Homo sapiens: one gene and its partners. The protein of the gene in region 3 purifies or fractionates together with the protein of the main gene of each other region. This does not show direct contact. Each region holds a gene or a part of one and is shown on either strand. Other genes may lie near its edges. The genes, in order: KPNA1, KPNA6 and XRN2.

The links.
Region 1: the proteins of XRN2 (region 3) and KPNA1 purify together in Homo sapiens (affinity purification with mass spectrometry; 4 studies listed by BioGRID and IntAct, with this or other methods). This does not show direct contact.
Region 2: the proteins of XRN2 (region 3) and KPNA6 purify together in Homo sapiens (affinity purification with mass spectrometry; 2 studies listed by BioGRID and IntAct, with this or other methods). This does not show direct contact.

Annotation. Positions count from the first base shown.
Region 1 is NC_000003.12:122,421,350-122,432,573, reverse strand, and holds the end of KPNA1 (importin subunit alpha-5), read left to right. Parts: intron 1-52; exon of another isoform or gene 53-107; intron 108-4,857; coding exon 4,858-5,036; intron 5,037-5,401; coding exon 5,402-5,589; 3' UTR 5,590-10,672; downstream 10,673-11,224. UniProt on the Homo sapiens protein: Functions in nuclear protein import as an adapter protein for nuclear receptor KPNB1. Binds specifically and directly to substrates containing either a simple or bipartite NLS motif.
Region 2 is NC_000001.11:32,169,766-32,177,459, forward strand, and holds the end of KPNA6 (importin subunit alpha-7), read left to right. Parts: intron 1-116; coding exon 117-295; intron 296-941; coding exon 942-1,129; 3' UTR 1,130-6,798; downstream 6,799-7,694. UniProt on the Homo sapiens protein: Functions in nuclear protein import as an adapter protein for nuclear receptor KPNB1. Binds specifically and directly to substrates containing either a simple or bipartite NLS motif.
Region 3 is NC_000020.11:21,324,589-21,336,274, reverse strand, and holds part of XRN2 (5'-3' exoribonuclease 2), read right to left. Parts: intron 9,997-11,686; coding exon 9,869-9,996; intron 9,786-9,868; coding exon 9,674-9,785; intron 7,717-9,673; coding exon 7,605-7,716; intron 5,795-7,604; coding exon 5,736-5,794; intron 5,660-5,735; coding exon 5,570-5,659; intron 4,715-5,569; coding exon 4,642-4,714; intron 4,508-4,641; coding exon 4,457-4,507; intron 3,993-4,456; coding exon 3,835-3,992; intron 2,732-3,834; coding exon 2,657-2,731; intron 2,572-2,656; coding exon 2,438-2,571; intron 2,339-2,437; coding exon 2,281-2,338; intron 2,198-2,280; coding exon 2,090-2,197; intron 1-2,089. UniProt on the Homo sapiens protein: Possesses 5'->3' exoribonuclease activity. May promote the termination of transcription by RNA polymerase II.

The DNA of each region.
Region 1 (11,224 bases), on a different chromosome or scaffold from region 3:
GCATTAACTCCTTACTCATACGTAATATCAGACAAACATAGCTACTACTTACATTGTTGCTTTGTGGACTGAATGTAGGCATTCATCAGATGCTAGTTTTGAGTGTTCTGTTTGGAATTAAAAAATAAAAATAGTAACAAAGTACAGAAATTTATCAGGTAGAGAAAATAAGAAATATGTACCTGAAAGAATAAAATTACAAACAGATTAACATATGCAGTAGCTATTTTGGTGAAGTTCATCATGGGCAGGTTATTTCAGGGAGACAGAAGCACATTTGTCTTGTAGGTTTTTTCCAACCTCCAAAATTCTGATTCTAGAGTACTATGATTTTAATTATGCTGTCACCAGATGGTAAAAATAATGAAGTACTATAGTTATTTGAATAAGCTTTATGTTCAAATTCACATTTATAGTTATTAATTGTCTCTATATTTTATAGCAAATATATTTTCTTAATTGAAATAAGCCAGGCCGGGTGCAGCGGCTCATGTCTGTAATCCCACCACTTTGGGAGGCCAAGGCAGGTGGATCACAAGGTCAGGAGTTCGAGACCAGCCTGGCCAACAGGGTGAAACCCCGTGTCTACTAAAAGTACAAAAATTAGCCAGGTGTGGTGGCGTGCACCCGTAATCCCAGCTACTTGTGGGGCTGAGACTGGAGAATCGCTTGAACCCGGGAGGCAGAGGTTGCAGTGAGCTGAGATCATGCCACTGCACTCCAGCCTGGGTGACAGAGTGAGACTCCATTTCAACAAAAAAAAAAAAAGAAGAAGAAGAAATAAACCATAAACATATATATTTTATTATGCCATCTTTCATGAGAAAGTATTCAGGAGTATTTTGCTCTGTTAGAGAAGCGCAGAATTGCTGCTGTCCCTTTTTAAAATTCAGCATAGCTATTTATAATAAAATTAATTACCAACCTCCTAGCAGTTTCTTCTTCCCCACATGAAGAGTTATCTTGAAAGAATGTCACAAAAATATTACAGTCCAAATTACAAAAAACAAACTGACTTTATCACTTATAAAAGACATCTATCTGGCTTCTGCTGCTTCTTGTTGCAGATACCAGATTTGGATGCAAGAAACAATTAGAATATTTTAGGAAATATCTTGGCCGGGTGTGGTGGCTCATGTCTGTAATTCCAGCACTTTGGGAGGACAAGGCAAGCAAATCACTTGAGGTCAGGAGTTCGAGACCAGCCTAGCTAACATGGAGAAACCTTGTCTCTACAAAAATTAGCTGGGCGTGTTGGTGTTCTCCTGTAGTTCCAGCTACTTGGGAGGCTGAGGTGGGAAAATGGCTTGAACCCAGGAGGCAGAGGTTGGTTGCAGTGAGACAAGATCGTGCCACTGCACTCCACCCTCGGAGACAGAGTGAGAGACTCTGTCTCAAAAGATAAAAAAGAATGTTTTAGGAAACATCTAGAATTTTAGGTTGAATATAATCAAATGTTAATACATATATAACACATGTTCTTAATGAAGGATAAGGATTATTAACTGAAATTAGAGAAACATTCATCAAAGAAGTGAAACTTACTATTTGTATAGAGAATTGGCAGTTTTGGAGGGGAGAATAGCATGAGGAAAAGTGAGAGAATGCAGTGTTTTTGGAGGTGGCAGGTCAGTCTTGCTATAGGTCGTTCTTTCACAAGGATGATTAAGTAATCGACTGGTGAATACTGGGATGAAAGCCTCAGTCTTGGGTATTGGGAAGACTTGGCCTGTCTAAGCTCACGAGTGACACAAAGTAAGGCCTGTGTCTAGGTTCATTATTTTTCTGTATGGATGTTCAGTTGTTTTAGCACTGTTGAAAAGGTGGAATCCTTTCTCCATTTAATTGCCTTTGCTATTCTGTTAAAGATCAGTTGACTGTTTTTGTGCGGGTGTGTTTCTGGGCTTTCTATTCTTTTTGTGTGGGTCTGTGCATGAATTTGCAGTTTATCTGAGAAACCAAACACACAAACACACAGTTTATCTGAGAAACCACACACACACACACACACACAGTTTATTTGAGAAACCACACACACACACACACACACACACACACTGGTAGTACAGTATAGGAAGTCCTCACTTAATGTCATTGATAGGTTCCAGGAAACTTTGACTTTAAGAGAAACATTGTATATATCAAAACCAATTTTATCATAGGCTAATTAATATAAATCAGTTGAGTTACTACGTGATATTTCTGGTCAAGGAAACATCCCCAACCTTCAAAATATAGACCCAAAAACCTTCTAATATTAAACATTGAAACAGATGTCAGCTATACATAAATGTAAGAAAGATTAATAAAAACAAGTATGATAATATCCAATTTTTGGTGAATCCGTGAATGATGGCAGTAGTAGTGGTGGTGGGTTAAATCAAAGAATACAGATTTACAAAACAAAAGTTATGAGCATCTCCTACCATCCTGCCACCACACAATTAAAAAAGCAACAATAACATATAAAAAAGGATTCCCAGCACTGAAGAATTTAATGAATGAAATAAAAATACAGTTGAGATATTCAGCAGTGGATCAGATCAAGCAGAAGAAAGAATTACTAAACTTAAAGATAGGTCTTTTGAAATAACTCAGTCAGACATACATGAATGAATGAATGAATGAAAAAAATAATTAAAAAAGAAAGCCTAAATGGCATCTAGGATACCATCAGGGGAACAAACATTCAAGTATTGTGAATGTCTGGGCCCTCTATTTTGTTCCACTGGTTTTTTGTTTGTTCTTTCACCAATACCACACTGTCTTGATTAGATTATAGTAAGTTGATAATGTCATTCCTCCAACTTTGTTCTTCAGTATTGTATTGACTATTCTGGGCCTTTTGCCTTCCCATATAAACTTTAGAATCAGTTTGTTGGTATCTATTAACATGCTGGGATTTTGTTTGGGAGTATCACATTGAATCTATAGATCAAGTTGGGAAGAATTGCCATCTTAACAATATTGAGTCTTGTCCATGAGCATGGAATATTTCTCCATTTTTTTTTTTAGATCATCAGTTTTGTAGTTTTCCTCATATATATCCTGTTGTACATATTTATTAGATTTACACTTTTTTGATGCTGATGTAAATGAGATTCTTTTTTTTTTTTTTTTTTTTTTTGAGACAGAGTTTCGCTCTTTCGCCCAGGCTGGAGTGCAGTGGCACGGTCTCGGCTCCTGCAACCTCCGCCTCCTGTGTTCAAGCAATTCTGCCTCAGCCTCCCAAGTAGCTGGGAATACAGGTGCCCGCTGCCATGTCTGGCTAATTTTTGTATTTTTAGTAGAAACGGAGTTTCACCATGTGGGCCAGGCTAGTCTTGAACTCCTGACCTCAGGTGATCCACCCGCGTTGGCCTCCCGAAGAGTTGGGATTACAGGCTTGAGCCACCATGCCTGGCCTGTTTGCTGAGTTTTTATCATGAATAGGTATTAGATTTTGTTAAATGCTTTTTTGCATCCGTTGAAATGATCGTAAGTTGATTACATTGATTCATTTTTTTAAAATGACGGATCAGCCTGGCATATTTGGAATAAATCCACTTGGTATATAATTCTTTGTATACATTCTTGGATTTGATTTGATAATGTTTTGTTGAGGATTTTTGTATTCATGTTCATGAGACATATTAGTCTGTAATTTTCCTTTCTTATGATGTCTTTATTTAATTTTGGTATTGGGGAAGTGCTGGCCTCAAAGATTGAGTTAAGAAGTATCCCCACTGTTTGTTTTCTGGAAGAGATGGTAGAATACTAGTATCGTTTTGTCCGTAAATGTTTGCCAGAATTCACCAGTGTGAAACCCTCATCCTGATGTTTTCTATTCTGGGAAGTTATTAATGATTCAATTTATTTAATACATGTAAGCCTGTTCACATCAGTCATTTCTCCATGACTGAGTTTTGGTGGTTTGTGTCTTTCAAGAAATTGTTCATTTTATCATCTGAATGATCAAATGTGTGAGCATAGAGTTGTTTGTAGTATTCCTTTATTATCCTTTTAATATCCATGAGATCAAGTGATGATTCTCTTTCATGATATTAGTAATTTTGTCTTTTCTCCTTTTTTCTTGTTTGGCTAGAGATTTATTTTTATATATTTTTGAATTCTTCCTCCCCCACACAAAAAAGCAATATGTGAGAAAGAAATAGATTAGCACTAGCAGTAAGTTTCAAAATGACCTTACCAAACATTCACATAATGCAACTGGATTCATTATCCCTGCCTCTCTGTACTCAACTTGAGAAACCAGAATGATAAAAAATGACATGACTATTTACTGTGAATGTGATACAGTAATCATGTCTCTGAAGTTCAAGTATGATTAATCTTGATTACATACGGTTATACATTCTGCTTGAATTAAAGGAAAAATACCAGTTCTAGAATCCTCTGACATTTGTTTATTCTTCCCACAACTTACTTTACTAAAATTCTAATCATCTTTGAAAGATTTGGCTTATCAGGCTTGTGCTGGCTTTTAGCACCAAGAGTGTCATGTTTGAGAGGTGTGGCTATCTATGGAAACAAAGATGAAATTACTCAAACCTATACTATTTTGATGAGTCGCTCATTTCAAGGTATTAATAAGTAAGTATTCCTGTTTTTGGAATGCATAAATTGTGAAGAGAAAAGAATGGAGAAAGGTGCCAGAGAACTGGTTTGGGATAATTTATTTAGAGGGTTTTTTGTTTTTGTTTTGTGAAAAGGTATAGCTTGTATGGTTGAAAGAGTGCTTGTTTTTTGTTTTTTTTTTTAAGTCTCTGCAGTGAAGTTGAGGATGACTTGCTCACTAATTTCATAAGTTTAACAAAATTAAAAGTTTTGTTTGACTACATTATTCTTTGTATTTAGGTACCTAGTAGAACTGGGTTGTATCAAGCCGCTCTGTGATCTCCTCACGGTCATGGACTCTAAGATTGTACAGGTTGCCCTAAATGGCTTGGAAAATATCCTGAGGCTTGGAGAACAGGAAGCCAAAAGGAATGGCACTGGCATTAACCCTTACTGTGCTTTGATTGAAGAAGCTTATGGTAAGATGCTTTGGTTGAAGAAGTTTATGGCCAAGAATGAATTGGGTCATAGATAGAGTTCAGTAAAAACAATACTACTACTGCTAGGCACTGGATGAAAAGAGGACTGTTAGGAAATTGCTGCTTCTGCAGACTGGATATTACTTGCATATGTATTTAAGATGTCAGTTTATAATACTAGCTTTCAGATGTAATCCCAGCAGTCATTTCTGTGCTATTATAAAATACTTATGAGATACAAATAATCTTTCTTTACATCAAGAACAGAGATATATGACAAAATATAGTTTAGGAATATATAGTTATGGAATTTCCAATATTTATTGAAGTTTTCAATAAAGATTTTCCTTTATTCTTCATTTTAGGTCTGGATAAAATTGAGTTCTTACAGAGTCATGAAAACCAGGAGATCTACCAAAAGGCCTTTGATCTTATTGAGCATTACTTCGGGACCGAAGATGAAGACAGCAGCATTGCACCCCAGGTTGACCTTAACCAGCAGCAGTACATCTTCCAACAGTGTGAGGCTCCTATGGAAGGTTTCCAGCTTTGAAGCAATACTCTGCTTTCACGTACCTGTGTCAGACCAGGCTACCCAGTCGAGTCCTCTTGTGGAGCCCACAGTCCTCATGGAGCTAACTTCTCAAATGTTTTCCATAATACTGTTTGCGCTCATTTGCTTGCCTTGCGCACCTGCTCTCTTACACACATCTGGAAAACCTCCGGCTCTCTGTGGTGGAATACCCTTCTAATAAAAGGGTAACCAGAACGGCCCACTCTCTTTTACGGAAAAATCCCTAGGCTTTGGAGATCCGCACTTACATTAGAGTTATGGGAATATACACATATTAATGTGGCTCCCTTTTTCTTGTGGGGGAATAAAAGAGGACTCCTCCTCATTCCCTTTAACATGGGGGAAAAAACTGACATTAAAAGATGAGACTAAATCTTTATCTTGAATTTTACACAACTACTTACGACAAGGGAGATGTTTAGACCTGTTGTGTATACTTCAGAGTACTTTTCATGAGTTCTTCCACAGTGAACCCTTGGATTACCTGGTGGCTTTTTCTAGCCAGATTTGCATTAATCCTTACTGAGATTGGATGGTTTTCTTTCCTCTATTGGCGCCATTCTTCAGATATTAAAGTTAAACCATCCACTCCCTCACCTTCAGCCTTCAGTGAATGTGCTTTCTAGTTGTCAGGAATGCTGAAGAATTAACACTTTGACTCCTAAATGTGATACTGGTTTGTAGATTCCCTTAGAGCAGAAAGGAGAGGGGCACATATTAATTTGTATCGCTTTTGCTTCTCTTTGGTCTTTTGTGTCTTAGAATTTGGAAGTGGTTCATTTCTGTTGCTGGTATGAGGATTTCGAATACTTAGTAATCGAAAACCATATCCTGTAATTTAATAAAAAAAACTAAGGACGAAAAAACCCTCCAATTTTCCCAAATGCAATCAGTGTAACTAGGGGCTGTGTTTCTGCATTAAAATAAATGTTTCAGGCTTTGTGGTCCTGATCAAGGTCCTCATTAAAAAATTGGAGTTCACCCTAGGTGCTTTTCCCCTCTGTGACTGGCAGATAACACATACTTTTGAAAGTAACTTTGGGATTTTTTTCTTAGGTGCAGCTCGATTCTAATCTTTTCATGCTGCACACGATTCCTTTAATGTAGCATCCTTATCTGAAAGAAATAACCATCTTCTCAACATGACCTGCTTAACCCAAATAAGAACAGTGATCTTATAACCTCATTGTTTCCTAATCATTTTATTTCATCTCCTGCTAGTACTGTGCCGCTTCCCCCTCCCCCCACACAAAATAAAAACAGTATCTGCCTTCTGGCTCATTTAATGATGACTGCAATCTGTACCTGCAAATGGCGCTTCCAGTACTGTGTTCAGTGATCCACATTTGTGCTTGGACTGGAATGAAAAAATACGCTTAATTGCCAAGACAACTGCAAATGAGTTCAATACGACTTCTCGGTGCTAGTTGGCCATCTTGACTCAATGTTGGGATACACTACCAGAGAAGATTTTTTTGTTGATGTGCTGTTCAAAGTGAATTCTGAAGGAAAAGGTTGCTCACCTCTGTTTCAGAGCATACCCTTTTAAACCTTTTTAGACTTGTCCTCTTCTAGAATTCATTATAACCCCAAAGTGTAAAAACTATTTGGAAGTTGCCCCTGACAAGCTATTATACATCTCTGGTAAATCCTGCTGAATGTAAGGGATATTCAGAGCTTTTCATACCTCATCATGATGTTATTTAAGCAGCCAACTTATGTGACCTGATTTAAACTTTTAAAAAATCCACTTCATTCAAACTAGAAAGAGTCAAAGACAAAGGACATTTATCAGCCAAGAGTGTGACGCATTCTTCGCATCTAGTCTGTAGTAGTGTCTGTGCTCTGGGATGGATACCGTCTGATGTCTGTTTGTTATTGATGGCGCAGCCACTGCAAAACTAGTCAACTCCCATCTATAACTGTTACTTTTTCTAGTGCTGCTTTGTGCTGAGAGAACATTTTAGTTTACTGCACTTGACCTGTAAAAGACTGATTCTTTGTAATTTTAGGGATAAATTAGGTGGTTAATTTAAAGAAGAAATTTCAATGTTGCCTTTACATCACATTAAAATATAACTTCTTTCAGAAGGATAATAGAAGCACTGATTCATAGTAAAAATCTTGTTTTTAGCTTTGACTTTTTTGTGGCTGTTTTTTAAAATTGTAAATTACTAGTAACATGTCATTTCTATAGGATGTTTTAAATTATGTACCTTCCATTGGATAGTTAAAATAATTTCATTTTATAAGCCAATTTGAGTGGGAAAGATACAAAGCACACAGTTGTCTCCCCACATTAGGAAGAGTAGTGTGCATTCAGACATTCGGAATTTTTGCTAGTAGTTGGAGATGTTTCAGTGAGTGAATTAAAACAAAGTCTATTTAACTGACGTGATCTATTTTGTGTCTAAAACAGAGGAATTTATCTTGTCCTAGAAGTTCATGAACTATAAGATCTAAGTTTTTTTTTCTTTTTTAACAATAAAATGATTTTTTCTTAAAGTATCAAAGTTGGAATTGGCTAAAAGTGAAGTAGCATAACTCAGATATGTTGGAACTTGGTACTGAAGCAGGCTTTTTGGTAACAGAAATGACATTTTAAGGGGTAACTGTATATCCTGTTTTTAGTTCTTTGCCTCTCAGATTCTGTTAACTTAGTTTAAATTCACTGAATACCCTACCACTAAGGCGTTGCTCATTACAAAAGCATGTTAATTTCAATACAGGAAAACTCTTTTGTAGTTTTATATATGGATTGGGGAAAGTGACTTTGTTTTACTTTTCCTTTTTATTCCCCTCCATCCTCCAAACTTCCAATCTATATTATTTGTAATGAGAACTTTGGTGGGGGAAAAAAAGCATTAAGAGAATTTTGGATGTAAAGGCATCTGGTATCTGATGGACCAGCAGGTAGATGTGGTTGGATTGAGAAATTTTGGGTAAGGTAGATGATAGAAGAAAGAGATTTTAGGAGACACAGTTCTCTGTGGAACACTTTCTTTCATGTTCCTGTAACTAATTGATCAAGACCCTTTTAAACGCTTATCTTTGTCAGTTCCGCTTTTGAAAAAACTATTGCCCTAGGATTGTTTCTTCCATATGACAGATGAAGGTTATTGGCTCTGAGTCATTTTTGGCATTATCGTCACAGATAAAAAGATTGGCAATTAATCTCATAAAAAATCTGAATTATTCCAGATTGCTGCCGATTTTTGCCTAAGAAACAATATGTAAGTATATTTTATAAACCAAACTTTGTCAACCAATTCTATTGTACGTCTACCCACAGGCAACTTTGAATTTACTTCTCTAGTGCTAAATAAACATTTCAGCGATTTAATCCCCCAACTTGGGGGATGCATTATGAAAAGGTTTTCCTGGAGTCAAGGGGTTTTTCTTTCTCGCTAGTTTTGTGAAAATTTTTATATCAATAGGCAAATCATTATAACTTTTTAGGGGTTGATGGTTTTTAAGTATATTGGAAATTGTGGTGTCTAAGGATGATGTTCAGTGAAGAAAAGGGATCCACTTTTAGAAACCAGCATTGTTTGCTTTCAACTTTCATACTGTATGCTAACTCCTACGTTCCAAAATGTGCTCATTTGCAGACACAGGTATGCCTATATACATGGAAGTCTCAAATCTGAATTTTTATCCATCTCAATATGACCATTTCTCTCTGTTGTGAGCTGAACAGATTAAGTATATATCTGCCAGGTTGGGAAATATTTTGGTCTATCTTTTCCTGTCATCAGAACTTAATTTAAAAAAATTATCAAAGGTCAGATGTGACTACTACAGTAAGTTGGCTATCATAAAGAATATTCCATAAAATGTTTTATCTGCCATACAAAATTACTGGGTTTATGGCCGGATGTGGTGGCTCATGCCTGTAATCCCAGCAGTTCAGGATTACAGGTTATATACAGGTTATAACAATGGATACCAGGACATCAGAATATCTGATAAAGCAAATATTTATATGCTAATTTAAAATATCAAATTGCTACTGGACATAAAATACATCTGGAAGCTTGGGGTAAGAAGAAAGAAAAGAAGTGTTCCGTTCTGTTTTCAACTAAGGGTAAACGAAGTCCCAGAGTGTTTTCCCTGTAGGTCAAATTAAGGTAACATGTCTTTATTTGATCATCTATTGTACACCAGATACCTGGCTAAGGGCTTTCCTTTTTTCTCATGTAGTCTTCCAAATGTTCTTTGATAATTGTCACTATATTATAGATGACAAAGTGAAGACTTACGAGAAATTACTTTGCCCCAAGGTTACAACACTTAGATGGCTGTCCAAGGGCGGGGAAGAGCCCTGCAAATTCTGTGTCTTGAAGAAAGCAGTGGCCACGCAGTAGTTCCGTGCCCAGGATCTCCCAGAACTAGACTTGGCAACCACAGCTGGGCCAGCCTTTTTTGTTAGACCATTCTTCCTGACTCCTGCTTACCATCAGCACCCTTAAAATGACGAAATCAGGCTTAAGTTGCTTTTAGGTTACACAGACTGGAGTGTAGGCCCTCTCAGGCCAAACATCTTTCCTCTTCTGTGGTGCTAAAATTCTGTATGACCAGACAAGTATGGTAATAGGTTTTTTTTTTTTTTTTTTTTGTGCAAATGATTTTGTGTTTAGTAAAATAATGGCTAAACACATGGATCCATTCAAACGCACAAATGTGGAAAGTATTGACACGGAAGGAAAGGCTTTGAAGAATTACTGCCTCAGGAAGCAGTGCCATGGATGCGAATTTAACACAGTCTACTTCTTCCTAAAGGAATATCATCCCAAGGAATGTCAAAAATTAAAATCACCTTTTAATGTACTGGTTGTTGAGTGTTTCTGCTTTACCTCAAGTCATTCTGACCACTCTACATCCTGCTTCAAAGTGTTCTGACACTTAGATTTGGAATGGCTCTAATGATTCTTTGTACTTGAATGTGGTCTGTCAGGCCATGGGTGAGTGCCTTGCACATAGTAGACATTCAATAAATACTAAATGAAGGAATATGCATGCATCTTTGTGATGTTAGTAAAGGGTGCTTGATAAAAGAAAATTCAAAGGAATTCCCTTATGCTGTTACTTGAAACCAGGATCAACATCTTAAGCAAATGTCTCAACGTGTTTTATATGCAGTTACTTTTCAGAAGACATGATTTGACCTGAAGTTTACAAAATCAAACATTGTCATAGCAGAGGTCTGGTATTTAAAAACAAACAAAGTGTCTTAGAAAAGCTAGTGGCCGGGTGCGGTGGCTCATGCCTGTAATCCCAGCACTTTGGGAGGCCGAGGCAGGTGGATCACGAGGTCAGGAGATCGAGACCATCCTGGCTAATATGGTGAAACCTCGTCTCTACTAAAAGTACAAAAAACTAGCCGGGTGTGGTGGCGGGCGCCTGTAGTCCCAGCTACTTGGGAGGCTGAGGCAGGAGAATGGTGTGAACCCAGGAGGCAGAGCTTGCAGTGGGTGGAGATTGCGCCACTGCACTCCAGCCTGGGTGACAGTGCAAGACTCCATCTCAAAAAAAAAAAAAAAAAAAAAAGCTGATGGGTATATTTTACAGTAAAGAAAAAAATTTATTAATATCCAACCGACGTGGAAGCTGC
Region 2 (7,694 bases), on a different chromosome or scaffold from region 3:
TTCTTAAAAATAAAAAAATAAATTAGTAAGAGTGGGTTGCTGAGAGTTCAGAGCACCTGCCCAGCACTTCATGTGTCCTGTACTAGTTTAGCACTTGCCTGGTCTCTGGCCCCTAGGTACCTGGTCTCACTGGGCTGCATCAAACCCCTATGTGACTTGCTGACTGTAATGGATTCGAAGATTGTGCAAGTGGCCCTCAATGGACTGGAGAACATCCTGCGGCTTGGAGAGCAAGAGGGCAAGCGCAGTGGCTCAGGGGTCAATCCTTATTGTGGCCTCATAGAGGAAGCCTATGGTATGTGCCCTCTCCTCAATCTAGGTCAGAACCTGAGACTGTAGGCCTCCAACGTGGTATACATATGTTGGTGGTGGCGGAGTGTGGGTTGGGAAGCATCCATAGCTTCCATGAGACTGATGTCTGTGTCTTCAGAACAGTTAAGAGCTCCTGCCCTAGCCAAGTTTCACCATCCACAGGGTTTCACACGTTACCATGAGTATAATCAGGATGTGCTGAGTAGCTGGGGTACAGCTAGGATTTGGATTTGGCTCATCTTTTGAGTTGAGAGTTGTCTCTCACCAGTTTCTTCTCCTTCTAAGGAGTGATAGGTCAGTTCTCTTTCTGATAGGCTGTACCTATAAGAGTGCTGGATTAACTCATCACTCATCCCTGAGAGGCTGATGATGTGCCCAGGTCATGCTTCTAGTTTAAAGCAGAATCAGGACTAGAACCTCTGTAACTGACATTTTGGTCTCTTTCCTTTGGGATTCTGTAGTTTTGAGAAGAAATCTTAACTCTCCCCTTTCAGGTCCAAGAGTGATCTGATCATATGACTTGTGTTTGTAAGCACTAACATACCTCAGGGAAGGAAAAATAGGTAAATGTTTCACCTGCCCATAGAAAAGCACTCACACTTCCCTCTCCTTCCTTCTTACTACTGTAGGCTTGGATAAAATTGAGTTTCTCCAGAGCCACGAGAACCAGGAGATCTACCAGAAGGCCTTCGACCTCATTGAGCACTACTTTGGTGTAGAAGACGATGATAGCAGCCTGGCTCCCCAAGTCGATGAAACGCAACAGCAGTTCATCTTCCAGCAGCCTGAGGCCCCCATGGAGGGCTTCCAGCTATAATATCTGCCTCCAGGGAGGGGAGGGGATGGGAAGCACCACCAGCCAGCGGAAGAGCAGCCCTCTGGTGGGCGGGAAACCAGTGTCCCCACCATCAGCCACCACACACCTCTGCTGCCCTGGAGACTGTGCTCTTGACCTGCTCCGCCCCCTTCCCTGGAGGGAGCACCCTCTGGACAGACAGAACCATCTGAGGCTCACCTTTGGGTTTTGTGACAAGAAGGGGACGTGTTGGGTTTTTCTTCCTTACACTATATTTTGGCTGCACACATGTCTTTAACCCAGGAGCCCAGGGGTAGACAAAGGAGGACTAAGGTAATCAATTTGCACCTTTTTTTATTTTTATTTTTTTTCTTTTTTTCTTCAGTGGTGACTTCCTTCCCTTTATCTTTTTTCATTCTTCCCGGTCCTCTGCCCTGATCTGTGTAACTCTTATCTTGGGTACTTGAGCAGACGGTATATTCCAGAGGTGGGAGGTGGGAGGGGAAGGGAGAAATCCAAAACAAAGTGTTCTTGCTCTGACAGAATATTAATCTTGTACGCTTGGATTGAGTTATTTAATTTTTTTTTCTTTTGCACATTTTTCTTGTATTAAGATTGCTCTTCCCAAGAGCCACAAGTTCCTGGTTTTAGTAAACCCAGCTGCCTGCATTGCCTGGGACTAGAGGCTGGGGAGGCTACCATGAAACAAAGGTCCCTCCCTCCCTCTGACTCTTTGCCCAGACCTCTTTAGTTTGGGGGATCCTCCTCACTCTCCTGAAGTGTCTCAAGTATACCAGTGGGAGTGCAGGGGAGGAGCACAGGCCTTCAGATGGGGCTTCCCACGTGTAGCTACTGATCCCATATTTCCTACTCACCTTCCAAATGGTGCGACCCAACTTCATTTGTTTACTTGAAAATTCCCCCTCGAGGTTGAGAGAACCTCTGAGGTGGCTGTATTTTCTCCTAAGCTTGAGATAGGGGGCTGTGGTCCTTCCTTTCTCCTGAGGAGAAAGTCCTTGCTCTGGTGACCTGTAAGTTGCAGAGGAGGGTGGAGTGAGAGTGTCATGTATTGGGATAGTCAGGGATCCCTGCCTTTGGCCTTTCTTCTTCTTCTTCTTCCTCTTCCATAGTTGGATCATGTATATTTTACTTCTAAAGGAGAGAATGTCAAAAAGTTCTGTATTTTTTTATATTCTATATATTAGGTAGGTCAATCTTAATTGGTCTCAAGAGGAAGAACTGTCTGTCATTTCGGTAAGTAGGATACTGTGAGGAAGACCAAAAAGAGATATGGATGCTTCCTCGCTCAGGAGGCCTGAGCTTGGTCCTTTTCCTCTCTGCTTGGATTCTGGACCACCACCTGGGACCAACCTTCAGCTCTGGAACCTTCATAAAGCAGGTCAGCGTGGCCTGATTGTCCCAGGACCTGAAGGGAGCAAGGATGGCCTCAGGGCCTGGTGAAGTCTGCTACTCTGTCCTTACTGCTGAACATCCTGCTTGTATCAGGAAACTCAGAAGCAGTTTGCCTTGTCAAATTCAATCTCAATGGCCATTGTCCACATAACTGATCACCCATGGCTGCCTCTCCTATTATCTATTATCACTGAAACTTAGTAGCCTGCTTTTTTTTTTTTTTTTTTTAGAGCTATTGCGTATCTTCCCTGTTTGGGATCCTTGTACCTGGTTTGGGTTTTCCCTTCCTTGTGACAATTATAATCCAGATGCCTCTTCTTTCTGTTTGAATTACGGTAGTGCATTGCCTTAGTGGCTTGCCTGTGCCTCTGGGTGGATTACATATGATAGTAAAGCCCACCTGTTTGGATGGGAGTAGAGGAAGTTGGTGTAGACCAGCTGTGGAGCTGAAGGCACAGTCTGCCCCACCCCCACCTCCCCACTGTGGTTAGTCAGAGGCATCCTGCTCCAAGCTCTGCTTTTCCTTCCTCTGAAACAATGCCATTCTTGCTTCTATTGCTACACATCTCCTTCTGGCTCAGGTGAAATCCATGCCCTTCTGCTTATAGACCTAAAGTTCAGGTACTTATTATTGGCCATTGATCTTGAATTTGCCCTCTCCTAGTGCTGCAGTCCCACTTCAAAGCCATTTTCTGAGGAGGATGGTTTAGGTCTGGCAATTGTCCTTGAAAAATCCCACCCATGTTGTACCACCTTGGTGAGTCATATGCCACTCATCAGCTTGGGAATGATGGCTGCCAACTCCCAATCTCCCAGGAAGGCAGGGGGCAGAATCTTTTTTTCACTTGGCCTGCTACCTCCATTAAAAAACCATTCTCTTACAGTTTAAAAAAAAAAAAAAAAAAAAAGCCTTCCCCTACCCAACCTCCGCCCATTGTTCTCTTCCAAAGGGCAATTTAGTAGGATCTACTTTGTACATCTCAAGTAAGAGTTAAGTCCCTGATACAGGGACCAGTTTCTTAGTGTAAGACATACACATCCTGCTTGTCCAGCTGTTCCTCCAAAATCTACTTTGGCTTCAGCTCCGGGTCCTGTACCAGATGGAAAATGTTTTTGGTGATCTGGCTGCTGCTTAAAGCCAGTTTTCCCTAAGAACTCCAAAGGCTAAAGTCTACTAGGGGCAGAGTGTGAGGATAGATTTCTAATCAGAGAAAAGTGGCCTCCAGGAGCTTTCATTTATGTCTTCTCCAGACCAGGTTTTCCTGTTATCTTCCTTTAATCCCCTTTCAACCAACAGGTGAAGTTCTTCCAGCCCACAGAGGTAGTAATATCATCTTTTCTATCTCCTCCTCTCCTTTGGCCATGTAATGAAGCAAAATATTATTTATTTAGCCCAGGCTTGAGAGCCACTGTTTGTGGACAGTCTTCATCTAGATTCCATACCCTGGCCTAGGCGAGGTAAGGCTCTCTGGTTATTGCCAGGATGGAGCCCCTCTACCCCAGTCTGCTGTAGGGAATACCCTAATTAGTTGAGGCATGCTTTTGGAATCCTGGCATGTTGGCATATGGCTGGTCTATCCTTTTTAAGATCTCTGGTTGGGGGTATCTGGATATGGATTAGGAGGGACAAGGAGCCTTTTTCTTGGCTAATGTTTTCCAATACTTTTTTGAATGGTGCCAGCCCCTCCAGGCATCCCACCCCCAAATCATCATCTTTAGTACTAACAGGGTGTCTGGTCTTAGAAGCCTCCCTTCAGATCCCAGCTGACCCTGGTGACTGCCTGGCCTTGATGTTGGCTGCAGCCTTCTGATAGAACCACATGGATTCCACCCACAGCTGGCCAGGCTTGTTACATGGGTCAGGGAATACAAATGGCCCCCCCCCAGGGAGCAGGTGTTGGCCTCAGTTTTCAGGGACCCTTGGTGTTGCTCCTTACCTAGAGCCCATTAATCTACCCCATCAACTCTCTGCCATGAAAGCCATCTTCCAGGAGCCCTGTTTTTTGGAGCTGAACTGCACAGATTATAGCTGCTATTGTACTTAAATAAGGGAGAGGAAAAGAAGGTTCTCAGGCACAGACTTTCTATTTTTCTCAAGCCAAACCAGTTTAAAATGTCTAGCAGAATGAACTGTATTTCCATTTCTTCATGTCTACCTGCCTTCCCCCCACACCCTAAAGTTGTACTTGTTTCTAGCAAACTAGAAGGAAAAGATAGGAAAGCCTGGCACTACTAACCTCACCTCTCATACACCTCTTTGAAGGCCCCAGCTCTTTTGTTCAGGCCTCTCTTCTCCCCTAGACTCACTCAGCTTGGTATCCATCATCTTGAGCATTCTTCAGTAGATTCATCTAGGGTTCAGATTCCAGACTCTCAGCTGAAGACAGGGAGCCAATTTCCCCCAGGTCCCTGCAGGTAATCCAGGGACCCCATAGGGAGAACAGGCTGACTGGGGCATTAGGAATGTTTGTACCTCTCTGCTTCCCTGGCAGCCTGGGGAAGGGTGCAGGGCTCAGTGCGCTAAACCATGGTAAACATCTTCAATAGAACTACCCTAGAATTTAGTGAGTGTGAGACTGAGATATTGCTCAGAATAAATTTATTCCATAGCCATTTAGGATTGCATGTTCTGGACCAACCTTGTCCAGTATGTTTTCTGTTTGAGCTTTTTCATTCTTTTGTTAAGCCAACAAGTTGAGAATTTGGCCCTGCTGGGATCCATGTAGTGGGCACTAGCTGCTCTTTGGCCAAGGCCTTCATAAATGATTCAGTCTCTCATTATCTGTCCTCTAGCCCCACACCCTGATTTAGACCGTGGCAAAGGAAGAACTTGAGGTCAAGACCAACCAAATCTGTGAATTAAAGCTGTTATTTTTTTCTCTGCAAGGGCGCTTTGCTTCAGGTCTGGGCTATGTGCAGAACCTAAGCAGGCTGTGAGAGTTAGAAGAGGCAGTATTACATGTTAGGCCCAGAACACCATGGGAAAAGGTTTATGTAGTGTATCTTAGTGGCCTGCCTAGCTGCCTCTGGGCCAGGCTGACTTCTGATGTCCACATTAGCTCGTACCTGAACCCTGTTGCTGAATGCCAGCCCTGTTCTCCTGTAACTATTATATACGCCATGGCCTGGGGGGCATTGAAGGAAGTAAGCTCTCAGAGATCCTAACACTGGCTGGGAACCTCTGACTCAGAGCATGTCTTTAAAGAGTCCACATCTGGCCAGGCGCGGTGGCACATGCCTGTAATCCCAGCACTTTGGGAGGCCGAGGCGGGTGGATCACGAGGTCAGGAGTTTGAGACCAGCCTGGCAACATAGTGAAACCCCATCTCTAATAAAAATACAAAAAATTAGCTGGGCGTGGTGGCAGGCGCCTGTAATCCCAGCTACTTGGGAGGCTGAGACAGGAGAATCACTTGAACCCAGGAGGCGGAGGTTGCAGTGAGCCAAGATCATGCCACTGCACTCCAGCTTGGGTGACAGTGCGAGACTCCATCTCAAAAAAAAAAAAAAAAAAAAAATCCACATCTTCAGCTGGGCGCGGTGGCTCATGCCTGTAATCCTAGCACTTTGGGAGGCTGAGGCGGGCAGATCACTTGAGGTTAGGGGTTCAAAACCAGCCTGACCAACATAGTAAAACCCCGTCCCTACAAAAATAAAAAAATAAAAAAAATAAGCCAGGTGTGGTGGTGGGCACCTGTGATCTCAGCTACGTGGGAGGCTGAGGCAGGAGAATCTCTTGAACCTAGGAGGCAGAGGTTGCAGTGAGCCAAGATTGTGCCAGCCTGGGCGACAGGGTGAGGCTCTTGTCTCAAAAAAAAAAGTCCACATCTTCATGAACCCTCAGACTCTGGAGTTGGGTGTCGGCTTTTTTAGCCAGCTTTTGTGGGAATTGCCTTTGACCTATTAAAGAAGGAAAGTGGGTAATGGAGTCCCAGCCACTCAAGAGACTGGATATCCCCCGAGAATGGCTTGGGTTACCAGCTATGGACCCTTGGAAGATGAATCTAATCCTTCTCACTGGTTTTTCTTTGCAAATTCATTTGCTTTTATTTTTCTAATAACAATAAACTCTATTTTCCATGTTCTCAGGGCCCCTGGGTAGACAGACACAGCTTGATTTCAGAGCAGACATAGGCGAAGAAAACATGGCATTGAGTGTGCTGAGTCCAGACAAATGTTATTTATATACACATCCAAATTTGAAGAGAAAATGTATTTCTTTAGGTTTCAAACACTGTAATAGATATAAAGCAAAAATAAAAACCTGTTGCAAAGTTCTAAATTGTCTTCTTTGGCTTGGAGTGACCCTAGACTGGATTTGGGGGAAGAGAATGAGGAGGTGTTTAAATTTGTAGCTTAACAGTGGAAATAAGAGTTGTACCAACCTGCACCTGCTCTAAAGTTTTTTTCATCGACTTTATTGAAATATAATTGACATACAATAAACTGTACATATTTAAAGTATATACACGTTGATAAATTGAAACACATATGCACCCATAAAACAACCACAAGATAGTGAATATATCTATGACCTTCATAAGCCGTAAGCTTCCCGCTTGAGAATCCCTCCTTTCTGCCCCACCTCCAGCAACCACTGATCTGTGGCTGTCACTGTAGTTTAGTTTGCATTTTCTAGAGTTTCTCTAAATGATTTTGACTTAGTTTCATCAGCACCACTCTACAGCCCTTTGAACCTTTTTTTTTTTTTTGAAACGGAGTTTTTTATTCTTGGCATCCAGGCTGGAGTACAATGGCGTGATCTCGGTTCACTGCAACCTCTGCCTCCTGGGTTCAAGCGATTCTCCTGCCTCAGCCTCCCAAATAGCTGGGATTACAGGTGCCCGCCACCACGCCCAGCTAATTTTTGTATTTTTAGTAGAGACGGGGTTTCACGTTGGCCAGGCTGGTCTTGAACTCTTGACCTCAGGTGATCCGCCTGCCTCCGCCTCCCAAAGTGCTGGGATTACAGGCATGAGCCATCGTGCCCAGCCTGAACCTCTTAAGATCAAATAGTTCACAGACTCCTCCCTTCAGTTTAGATAATTCCTAAAGCAGAGATTACAGACAAGCAGCCAGAAAGTTGATTGAACCCACAGGAAGGTTTTGCTTGGCAGAGCGTGTTTAAGTTTGAATTAGTTGCCAACATTTTTTTTTTAAATCAAATGTCTGT
Region 3 (11,686 bases):
TTGGCCAGGCTGGTCTCAAGCTCCTAACCTCAGGTGATCTGCCCACCTTAGCCTCCCAAAGTGCTGGGATTAAAGGCATGAGCCACCACGCTTAGCCAATAACAAATATTAATGTATTCCTTTTCTATCATTTGTTCTGCTGGTCTGTTAAATGCCTATCTCTAAGGGTGGTAGTCACGCACAAACAGAAGACCACCTGGGTGGACCTTATGGATCTCTCCCTTTTTTGTGCTATGAACTCCTTTGGAAATCTGTCAAATGCCAGGGACATACTTCCCAGAAAAATACATATATCTGGAAACTTTCCTATTGCGTTTTTGAGGGTTTCCCCTGGTGTCCAATCATGCTGAAGGACATGGCATGACTTCAGGAACACCAACAAAGATCCAAAGCTTTAAAATGCCCTCTCCTGCCAGGTCAGCTGAAAAATCGTATTAATTAAATCTGTAACACTATGGTGTCTACCAAATCCCATACTTCCTCCTCTAATGCCAACTCAAGGTGCAGAGTCGGCTAAAGAGACAGTAGAAGCTACTGTAACTCAAGGTTTTTAAACCAAGTGGTACAAAGTATGTAGCAGCAGATCAAGGGATGCCACCATAATTGTTGAAAAAGTAGTTAAAAATGTTCCAATTGACATCTGATCTTCCAGACAAAGCTAGTTCTGTAATTTGAATTCTATATGCAAAAAACTCTTGACATCACATAAAAACATTACCAAGTACTGAAGGCTTTTGGAAAGAATGCTTACAGTCAACCCACTATGTTACATAAAATGACACCCAAAGTTTTAAAAATAAGAGATCACTAGCTACAGTATACAAAGTTGATGAAAACAGAAAATAAGATTCAATGACACATTTTAATGTGCTGGGAGATCATGAAGCAATGTAGCAGTAATATATGTTGTTATCTGCTTAAAATAGCCACATGACTTTTATAAAATCAGTTTCTGAAAGGATTTCCTTGCTGTTTCTAAGAAGCTATTACCTGCTTATTTTGCCCACTGCTGGCCTCCCTTGCTACACCCTGCAATCACCCTCCAATCACTCTGCCTCCAGGCTGCTGCTCCTCCACTCCTATCAGCTCACCAGTGGATCCCAAACCCTGTCCACGGACGAAGTGCCTGTCCATCTCACTGTGACCCCTTGAGCATGGCTTCCCATCTCTTCAGGAATTTCCTTCTACCTCTCTATAACTGGCTCCTCTTTCTCTTTAAATGTCCGTGGTTCCCTAGGCTTCTATTAAAGGTACTTTTACTCCACACAAGCTCCCAGGGTCACACTCATAGTACACTCATAGTTTCAAGTATCTTCCATTAGTTAATGGTTCTCAAATCTCTTCAAAAGACTTCTGCCCTGAGCTTTATACACATTCAACTGCTTAATGGACTTTTCTCCTCTCAGGTGTCCTACAGCCCCCTCACATTAAACATCTCCAAAATGAAACTCAGTTTTTACTTTGTCCCCACCCCAACCCATTCCACCCCTAGTGCTTGCTATCTTAGTAAATGGCACCAGCAAATTCCTAACTGCCCAAGCCAGAACCTGGACTTTTCATGTAAGCGCTCATCCATAATATGCAATCAATTTTCAAATGCTTTGCTATTTTATTTCCTTCTTGTGTTTCAATTTTTTAAGAGATTCAGCTCTCCACAGATCCTACATTCTCCCAACCCTCTGCCCTGGCTGATATAATCCAACCCACACTCCCTACATTGTCAATTCTTCTTAACCTGTCTTCCTGCCTTCAAAACATGACAGCCACTAGTTCAATCCCAATAGACTTCCAGCCTTGGTACCCGCATTTCAAATCCTATTGATTAGAAATGTGTTTGGATTTATATTCAGATTATGAAGACAGAAAAAACATTACAATGCAACTCAAACAGGGTACAATACATAGTTCCACAGAGCAAGCAGCACAACCTTTATAAAATAATCAAAGCACTGACCACTCATGATTACATTAGTGTTGACACACCATAATGATATAAAAACACACTCAAAGAGATTAAAAGTAATCACAGGATCATCATAGCCTATTAGAGACAGGAGCAATTTTAGCTACTGCAATAGAAACACTTTACCTCATCATCCTTTCTCTTTTTAAAAATGCTATCCTCAACTTCACCAACTGCTAACATGATCATCTGTACTCTTTGCAGATTGACATAACCACTTTCTGTAAGGTAACCCTGTAAGTGATAAAATATATGTAAAATGATCTTCTTATAAAAGCAAATACTTCTGTTTTGAAATCATTCAAGAATGAACTTACCCCAGTTTTGTGTACCACATTTTTGTATATGTTAACCAAACGGTCAATTGCATTTTCCCTGTCAGCAAGAGACAAACATTATGCATTAGGACCAGTAGGCACAGTAAAGTCAAGAAGCCTAAAACAGTCGTTTGAAAAGCTACACAAATGCACATACCTAATCTCTAACGATGGCAAATGAGGGAGGAAGTCATTTCCCACAAAGAAGCACATGAAAACCCAGTCATCAATGCTCCTCTCAACATCAAATGTGAATGGTAGGCTGGCCATTGTGAGTTCTCTTTCCAAATACTACAACCAAAAAGGAATGCTGCCATTACAGCTATCAAAGGCACCCTGCTTTAGAGTGCTGATTTCAATGATTATTGCTACATACCTCACGAAGAACATTAAGCCGAAGGAAGATAAACTCTCCTTCTGCACAAGGAAGACTATCGGCAAGTTCATCATGCTGCAAGAACAGGAATGAAGATGAAACAAGTCTACTCTACGTCCAGTAATTTTTTCCAACCAAGCAAATTTTAAGGCTTTTTCTAACGCACAATCCATTTTAATATCACAAGTATTTAATTTTTAAAAGCTCACCAATGCATTTTAAAATAAAAATTACCCATAAAATCAACCACGTCTAGATCAGGGGTCAGCAAACATTTTCTGCAAAGGGCCAGACAGTAAATTATTTTGGCTACTGGGGGACATATATGATCTCTGTTTAATAGTCTTTCATGTTTTATTTTGTTTTTAACAACACTTTAAAAATGTAAAAAACATAGCTCACAGGCCAAACCTGGAGGATTGAAGTTTGCCAACTGATGACCTATACCCAACCAATGATTACCCCTTCCTTGTGAACAGATGTGCATAGATACATGTATACTGTCTTTATTGTATTACATATCTGAAATAATACACTATATTTATCTCTTTTTTCACTTAACGATGTCTTTGAAAGAGGCACCATATTCTTTTTCCCCCCTCAAAAAGCATATGACTCAAGAGGCACCATATTATTGAAACAGAAGCCCCTTTAAAGGGGACTGGACATAACCAAGTGAACCTAAAATACATAAAAAGTGGGAGTAACTTAAAAGTCTTAAGAAGTTGTAGTTCCTTTTAAGAAGAGTATTTCAAACAAATAACTTCCACAAACAAATTACAAGCTATGGGCATTATTATCTATGGGAACTAAGCCTCGTGTAGATATAGGCAATATCAGAAAAAGTGCTAAGTAGAAAGGATGAGTGTGTGCATGTTTTTGAATGCAGGTTTATTTTAAAGTACTTTAAAAGATTCGTCTCTGTCGAGACTGTCTCAAAAGAAAAAAAAAAGAAAAAAGATACATCTCTGTGAAGGGTAACGGTAACAGAACAAGCACATAAAGAACTAATCAACCACAATCTTCTCTTCATCCATTTTAAAAACAAGGTAACTCAAATATTTAATGCTATTTAATTGTATACTTTAAAATGGTTGAAATGATATTTTATGTCATATACATTTTACCACAATAGATTTTTTTTTTTAATGAGGCAACTACCATCTCAAAGTTCTTACCTTTCCCTTCTTTTCTCTTGGCAAACCTTCACAATCTTTGACCTCATGTCCAAACTGATTACAAAGACCACATGGTTTGGGCTTGTTTGGTTTGAATTCTTCTCTAATAATGGTAAAGTTCGGTTCATGTGTGGCAAGGCCAAGCATAATGAGATCAGCTATCAATCAACAATGAGAAAAACATCGAACAGTGAGTATTCTGAGAGAAGTCTTACCATAAACTACTATGAGATGCCAACACAAAGAAAAGCCCAAATGAGCACCCAAATGAGCAGCAAAGCCCCAAAGCTTGACACTTCCTGGCATTTCCCAGTTAACAGGAAGTCCTCTAGATACGTGGACCTACAACATAGACTGCCACTAAGGATTAAACACTTGGGAAATTCTCCATTTTAAAGGTATGGGGAGTTAAAAGGTTGAAAAATGTAAGAAAGAAGAAAAGAAATTAAAGATCATTGACCACAGATTAAACAGCAACTCAATACTAGTTCCCTGTCGAACATAAAATAACCAAGGCATTTTGGAACTTCCAGGTAACCATGAATAATCCATTACTGCACACCAACCCATCAACTTGCTATGGTTTAATCCAAAAGAAGCAAATCCCAAAGAAGAAACTTACCATCTGCTCCACATAAACAATGATGAGTATTTGGGTCATGGTTAGGCTGGGCTAAACAAGAGAGAAACATGTATTTATATTAATATATTATATACCACAAGAATATCACTTCATACCAAGTATTTTCTATGCAATGGCTTTTTAAAAATAGAACATATAATCAAATATTGGTAAGTAAGCTTTACCTCTTTGCCTTCTAATGTAATCCATGATTTTATGTTCTCCTTCACCAGGAGCACTAGCATCAGATAAAATAACCTATAAAAAAATTGTTAACACTTTCAGATTATCCCCAATTTTCTATAGGCACAAAAATCAAAAGAATTATATGTCTCAAGAAAAACTGAGATAAGTGTTACGGGAAAATTTTCTGAATAAGGGTGTGTGTGTGTGTGTGTGTGTGTGTGTGTGTGTGTGTGAAAAACACCAAAACTACTTCACTGAAAATTTTCTGAATAAAGAAGGGGTGTGTGTGTGTGAGAGACACCAAAACCACTTCATTGATTGACTTACTACATGTAATGGAAAGGAATGAAATGTCTGGGTCAGACCTAGCCATCAGAAAAACTGATCATTCACAAGCTCCTATTTTCACTACTATGCAAGGATATAGTGCTGAACCATATATGCCCCAAGAATAATCAATAACACATATCTATAAAATATAATTTACCATTTCTCATTAATAGGGAAGCCAGCTTATGAACCTAAAATTACAAACAAGTTCATTTACATATTATTTAAATATTTGGGAACACAGCCATTTAAGACAGCCCCACAACTTACTAATTTTGCTGTATATTGATATGTAATAATGGAAATTTCCATTTAAAAATTACTTTCCTATATATATTTTTTAAATTATGAATCCCATTTTATAGCTTCATAGTGATGGTAAGAGGACAAAATTGGCTTTAAGAGAAAATTCAGCTATCTAAAACCTAACCATGCAAGGATACCCCATCTCCAAAAACCCTGGAAGCTTTTCTTTCTTCCAACAGTCAACTAGCATTTTATGGGGCAGGGCAGAAGGATAAATAATGTCAGTCATATCAAAGTACAGCCTCGAATGATCACCCTAATCTTTCTGAAGTATCAAAATGTGAAACTTACTGTCAAATTTTTCCACCCAGGGTCATTATTTAAACGATCAGCTATGTAATAGCGAAGGCATTTAGCAAGATTGTCCATGAATTCAGTTCCCTAAAATGATAGAAAGAAATAAATTAACCTATCATTTAAGAGTTAGCAATAGCTAGCAAAGTATGAGACTACTTACTGGTGTAATACAGTTGCTGTCAAATCTTTCTTTTATTTCTTCTGGAGGAAGAAAGCCACCTAGAGAAAAGAGGCAACGTTTTGTTCTCCCCATAAAAAGTGAGATAAATTACTCAACATTAAGCCAGAACAACAAAAACAAAAAGTTCCACTACAAAAGAAAGTGAAGTCTCGTCATCCGAGGAAAAATGTTCCCTCACTGGGAAGAAAATAAGATTCCATCTCTCAAATTTAAATTATTATTATTATTATTATTTGAGACAGAGTCTCATTCTGTCACCCAGGCTGGAGTGCAGTGGTGCAATCTCGGCTCACTGCAACCTCCGCCTTCCGGGGTTCAAGCGATTCTCCTGTCTCAGCCTCCTGAGAAGCTGGGATTACAGGCGCCTGCCACCACGCCTGGCTAATTTTTGTATTTTTAGTAGAGACGCAGTTTCATTGTGTTGGCCAGGCTGGTCTTGAACTCCTGACCTCCAGTCATCTGCCGTCCTCGGCCTCCCAAAATGCTGGGATTACAGGGGTGAGCCATCGTGCTCAGCCTTTTAAATTATGTTTTAATAAGACTGTAAAACAATATATGGTACACAAAAGATATTATATTGTTACATAAAAATTATGAAGTTCTTCACTCTGTAAGAGAATACACACACACACACACACACACACACACACACACACACACACCAGTTAGAGGCCATATTTTTTGATAACAGTTCCTAAAATAAAGGTGCCTAAGAAAAATGAAATTTAAAATGCCGAGTTCATCACAGCTTTACAGGATAAGAAATACAATTATCAGGTAGAGGAATATAAAAATCCTATTTTTTCCTCTCTATCACTATTAGCTGCTTCTCAAGAAACAAGTATATTTCATCACATCTTCAAAAAAAAGACATTCTTAAAATCAGAAACATTGTTATAAATACAAACAGGTTTTAGAGTCTTAATTACAAGTTGCAGCTAAAGGAACTATATACTTGTACACTTCCAGCAAAATTCAAGTAATATAAAATTTATTGTAATTGCAGGCCTGAGCTGGCTATACTATGGCATCCTTTTTCAACTGCAGAGTGCAATTATCCGGAGCCAAGACACTGTGGCTTTTCTGGTCTATTATACCCCCTTAAGTAGCAGAACACCAAACAAACCTGCTACAACCATACCCTACCTCACACACAGGTGTGGTAGGAGAGAACCAGTCCCAACTGGCATCAACACTCCCTGATCTTCCTTTTCTCTGAGGCTTAGTCAGTTCCTACCCATGTAGCCACCAGGAATTTTAAGGCTTTGGGGAACTGCAAAAATGAAGACATCCCACCCTAACCCCTCCAAACTTGAAGGAACCATAAGTACTGTGCCTGCTCCATCAACCTATATTGAAAGTATGCAAATGACTTGGCAACAGCCTGTAAATGTGGATCGAATCACCTCCGGCTTCCTCAGATAGACCTCTGAGTTTCAAAAAGCAAGCAAACCAAAGCTGATTTGAGGAAAATGTTTACAGCACTATAGCTTTCTGACAGCCGCCACAGAGAAAAGTAGTAAAAAATACTTACTATATTTCTATTCTACAGAGACATAAAAGTTTGTTAAAGAGCTGCACTGGCCCTGAGAGGAGTTGACAATCTGCAATCTCCACCAGAATTCCCTATTCCCAAGGCTCCCTCTTACTGGAGAGTTTGAAAATAAACAAGCCTATTAAGCCTATTGGTAGATTTCATGAACTACTTTTCCTCAACAGTGAACACTGGATATTCTGGGATCCTTATTAAATTAAAAGCTTGCCTCTTTGTAAGAAAAAGTTGCCACCACCCCCTCATTCTGCATACATCTTATGAAAAAATCCAACTTCAAGATGCATATTCTTTACCTTTTGCCAATATTTCTTCCCTGACTCGCTGCTTCTCGACTGCTGCTTCCATTCCTTCTTTTGATGCCCTGAACCTCCTTGAACGCTGCTGGTTCATTTTAGCACGTGGTGCCTGAAAATGTATTTCATATTCCATAACACTCATCAAAATATTCACAAATAAATCTGTACCTTATTTTGAATCAGTTGTTCTTATAAAAGCAGTACACTAAAATGGAAGAAAGGTAAGTAATGTGTCTAATAATCCTTTCATGACAGATACCAGATGCTGAGAACTTAAATTTGGACCGAGAACCCAAAAGCTGAGCTCAATCAGGTGAATGAGTGCCACGTCAAATGGACAAACATCCTATGAAGCCCTAGCACTTATACTTCAAGCCCTCCCAGTCTAACACCAGTTCCCCTCGGTTAGGGTGCTTGATTCAGGGCACCCAAGAAAGAAAGCTCACTTTACTCAAAAGACCCAGCCAACATCTGATGAGCAGTTACTACTGAACTAAGATCAGGAAGACATTCTCTATGTCCACACCTAAAAGGAAGAATGGTGTCCAAATGGGATCCACAATGTCTCATAAAAGCAACAGAAAACTATTTCTTTATGTGAAGAATCTCGGTGCACTTCTATTTCCCACAATAAGGTTTATAATTTTTCTGTCTTTTCAATAAGGCATAGCAGTTAGAAAGAAATAATGCCTTAACCAGAAGTACTTTTAAATCACTCTAACCAAATGCAATTTCAGTGGAAAAGCCCAAATAAAGTGAACTAGATTGTAAGATTTTCGAAGTTACTGAACTGAGTTTTGGGGTGGGAAGAAACTGTGAAATATCCTGTTTACATCTAAATGTAAGTTATTTAATATTCTCTTTAAACAATTCCCTTTTCTGTAGAATGAGACCATCTAATGAAGCCCTCTCAAGTACAAAGTTCTGTATCTACATTTATATATAAACAAAAAAATGTGTGTATAAACATGTACACACACATGCATATAAATGTGTACATATTTTATACTTGATGTAGCAGAAAGAACACACTGGAGTAAAGCTAAAGATTTCTTCAAAAAAAATTAGCTGAATATAAACTGAAATGTGCTCTAAACAAGACATATTCCTTTTCTTTTTACTCTTTACTCCATTCTAACTGCAACTTAGCAAGTTATCAGGTAGCTAAGGTTTTTCACTGAGTAAGACGAATCTCACAGAAAAGTTAATCTTCTTGGATTCAAAGTTCTCTGAATTTCCAAAATCATCCCATTAGCCGCTAGGATGCACTAAAATTAAAAGAATCTACTTGCAGATAGCTAAATAAATTTAGAGTTATATCTTACCTTACCCCCCTAATAGAGTTTGCTGGTCATTTATAAAAGGAGCTACTTGGTATTATTATCATAGGTCAGTAACTTACTCCTCTCAAATCATTTTCATGACTACTCATTGCCTATAGGATACAGTCCAAACTCCAGACGGTAAGGCTTTCTCAAGCTTTTGCTATACTTCCCTTCTCAATTCAAACCACCTGTAGTTGCCAAAACATGTCAGTGTGGTCAAAGGCACGGAAAGTGTGTTTACCTGCCACATTTGAGAAATCTGGAAGGTCCTCCCTCCCCAAACCCTGTCCCATCCATCTCCCACCACCACCCACCAATCTCCCAATTATTCTTCATTGTTAAAGAAATGGAACAAAAGTCACCTCTTCTCTATATCCTAACTTCCTTAGTAGCACTGACTTCCTCTTCCCTCAACACCCTGCATGTATTATCTAGTGCTTATAATGCCTATAAATAATTAAGCTCACCCATTTATCTATGCCTCCTTCCCTTTGACAGTAAGCCAAAAGTTCAAAAGCAAGGGCAGTCGCCAACATCCCCAGTATTTCACAGTACTGAGCACAAAATAAGCACAAAACACACACACAAAAAAACATCTGAATGAATGACTGAAGGATGAGGCTTTCTTTCTCAAGTTCATCACTGTCAACATTTTTCATTATTTAGCTGACTTTCATTCTAGACACTGGTAACACAGCAAAAAAAAACAAAATGGAGGCTTCTAATTATTTTAGCACTTACCACTCCATCTATTGCCATGTAGAGAAGTCTTCTTGGTCTTACAATACTGAAAAGTCTGTCAATGTACTCAAAAATTGCAACCATCATTTCATCTTCATTTTTTGGTGCTGGTCTATAATGACAACCAAACAATGTAATATAATATAATGTTTCCTCTGTGATTTGCTATATCAGTGACAAAAATGGGTTACGTACTTGTCTTCAGGATGAGTACAGGGATGGATGATTCCATTCATATCCAAATACAGATTATCAAACTCCACATCATTTGGATTAGGTTTACTGGCATCAACTGGAATCTTTACACCATTGCATTCTTTTGGCTATGAGGAAGTGATAATTAATAGTAGTTTGATTGTTCAAGTCTAAAAATGACAGATCCTAGGCTCAATATGAACTTGTGTTTCATTTCTGAACTGGAAATAAAACACTTCAAGTAACCTTTAAATTATAATAAGTTATTTTATTCCTTAAAGCAAACTGAAGCAGATATTTTATCTGTAGAAAGTGGATGGCTTCTAACACAAGTTATTTTTGACAATGTAGATGTTTAGAAAATTCACAAATCATTCAGGTTGTTCAAGTGAGAAATCATGGGAGTCATCTTAAAATTCATTTCCCTCACCACTCACATCAGTAAGTCCTGTCAAAGTAACGTAAAAAATGCTTACCTACTTCATCTCCTTTCATTCCCACCACCATGAACAACAAGAAGTTACCATCTCTAACCTAAAAGAGCACAACAACCTTCATCTAGTCTACCCCACCTCTAGACTCTCTGGTCTCCAGCTCACTTTCTGCATTGTCAGAGTTCTCTTTCTAAAACATAAAAGTGTACGTCCTTAATCTTACCTAATTTTTCTAATGATTCTCACAGCAGGTGTTTATCAATGAGCCTGGAGCCTTCCTAGTCTCCTATCCTGCCATACTATTGTTGAAGCCCACTCACTCTCTTGTAAGTTCCTGGAAAATGCCTTTTGATCTCTCAATGCCGTCACATGATGCTTCTTTCAGAACACCTTCTTCCTCCCTTGTCAACACCCACTTCCTGAAAAATTACTAATTTCCAGGGTCTACACTCAAATCAAATGTCACTCACTTTATAACACCTTGTACATATCTCCCAAGAAATTGTTCCTTCTGAATTTCCTCATAATTTTGCTTATTCACTTGTAGCACTTCCACTGTTTTACAGTTAGTCAATCTACCCCAGCTACATTGAGTTCCTCAAAAGATAAGGGCTTACTCACTGCCAGAGATACTCAATTATGTTTTTGTAAATGTTACTTCCTTTGTTTTTCTCTTCCAGAGCCTCAGCAAGAGATTAAGACTATGAGATCTAATTTTTACTATTAACAATAAAAGTCACTTAAAAAAATAACAGTTCCTCAAGCACATATAAAGCATCACTTGTAACAGCAAAAACTGTAAGCAATTTAAAAGCCCATCATGTACATACTACATCATGGATGAAGCTCAAAAACATTAGGTTAAGTGAAAGAAGCCAGTCATGAAGTACCAAGTACTATACAATCCCATTTATATGAAAAGTCTAAAATAGACATGTTTGCAAATATAAAAAGTAGATTAATGGTTGCTTCAGGTGAGGGTGGAGACAGGGGAGGGAGATGGGTAGCAACTGCTAATTACTTTTGAGAATGAAGACCCTCTAAAATCAGATAATAGTGATGATTGCACAGCTCTGTAAATATACTAAAAACCACTGAATCATACACTTTCAGCAGGTCAATTTCATGATACACAAATTATATCTCAATAAAGCTGTTAGAAATAGAAATTTAAAATCAGGTATGGTGGTATGTGCGGGTAGTCTCAGCTACTTCGGAAGCTGAGGTGAGAGGATTGCTTGAGGCCAGGAGTTCAAGGCTGCCGTGAGCTATGATCACACCACTGTATGCCAGCCTGGGCGACAGAGTAAGATCTCATCTCTTAAACAAGTAAACAGATCAACTTAGAGGAAAGGAAACAAGCCCATCAGGAAAAGAATAAGCT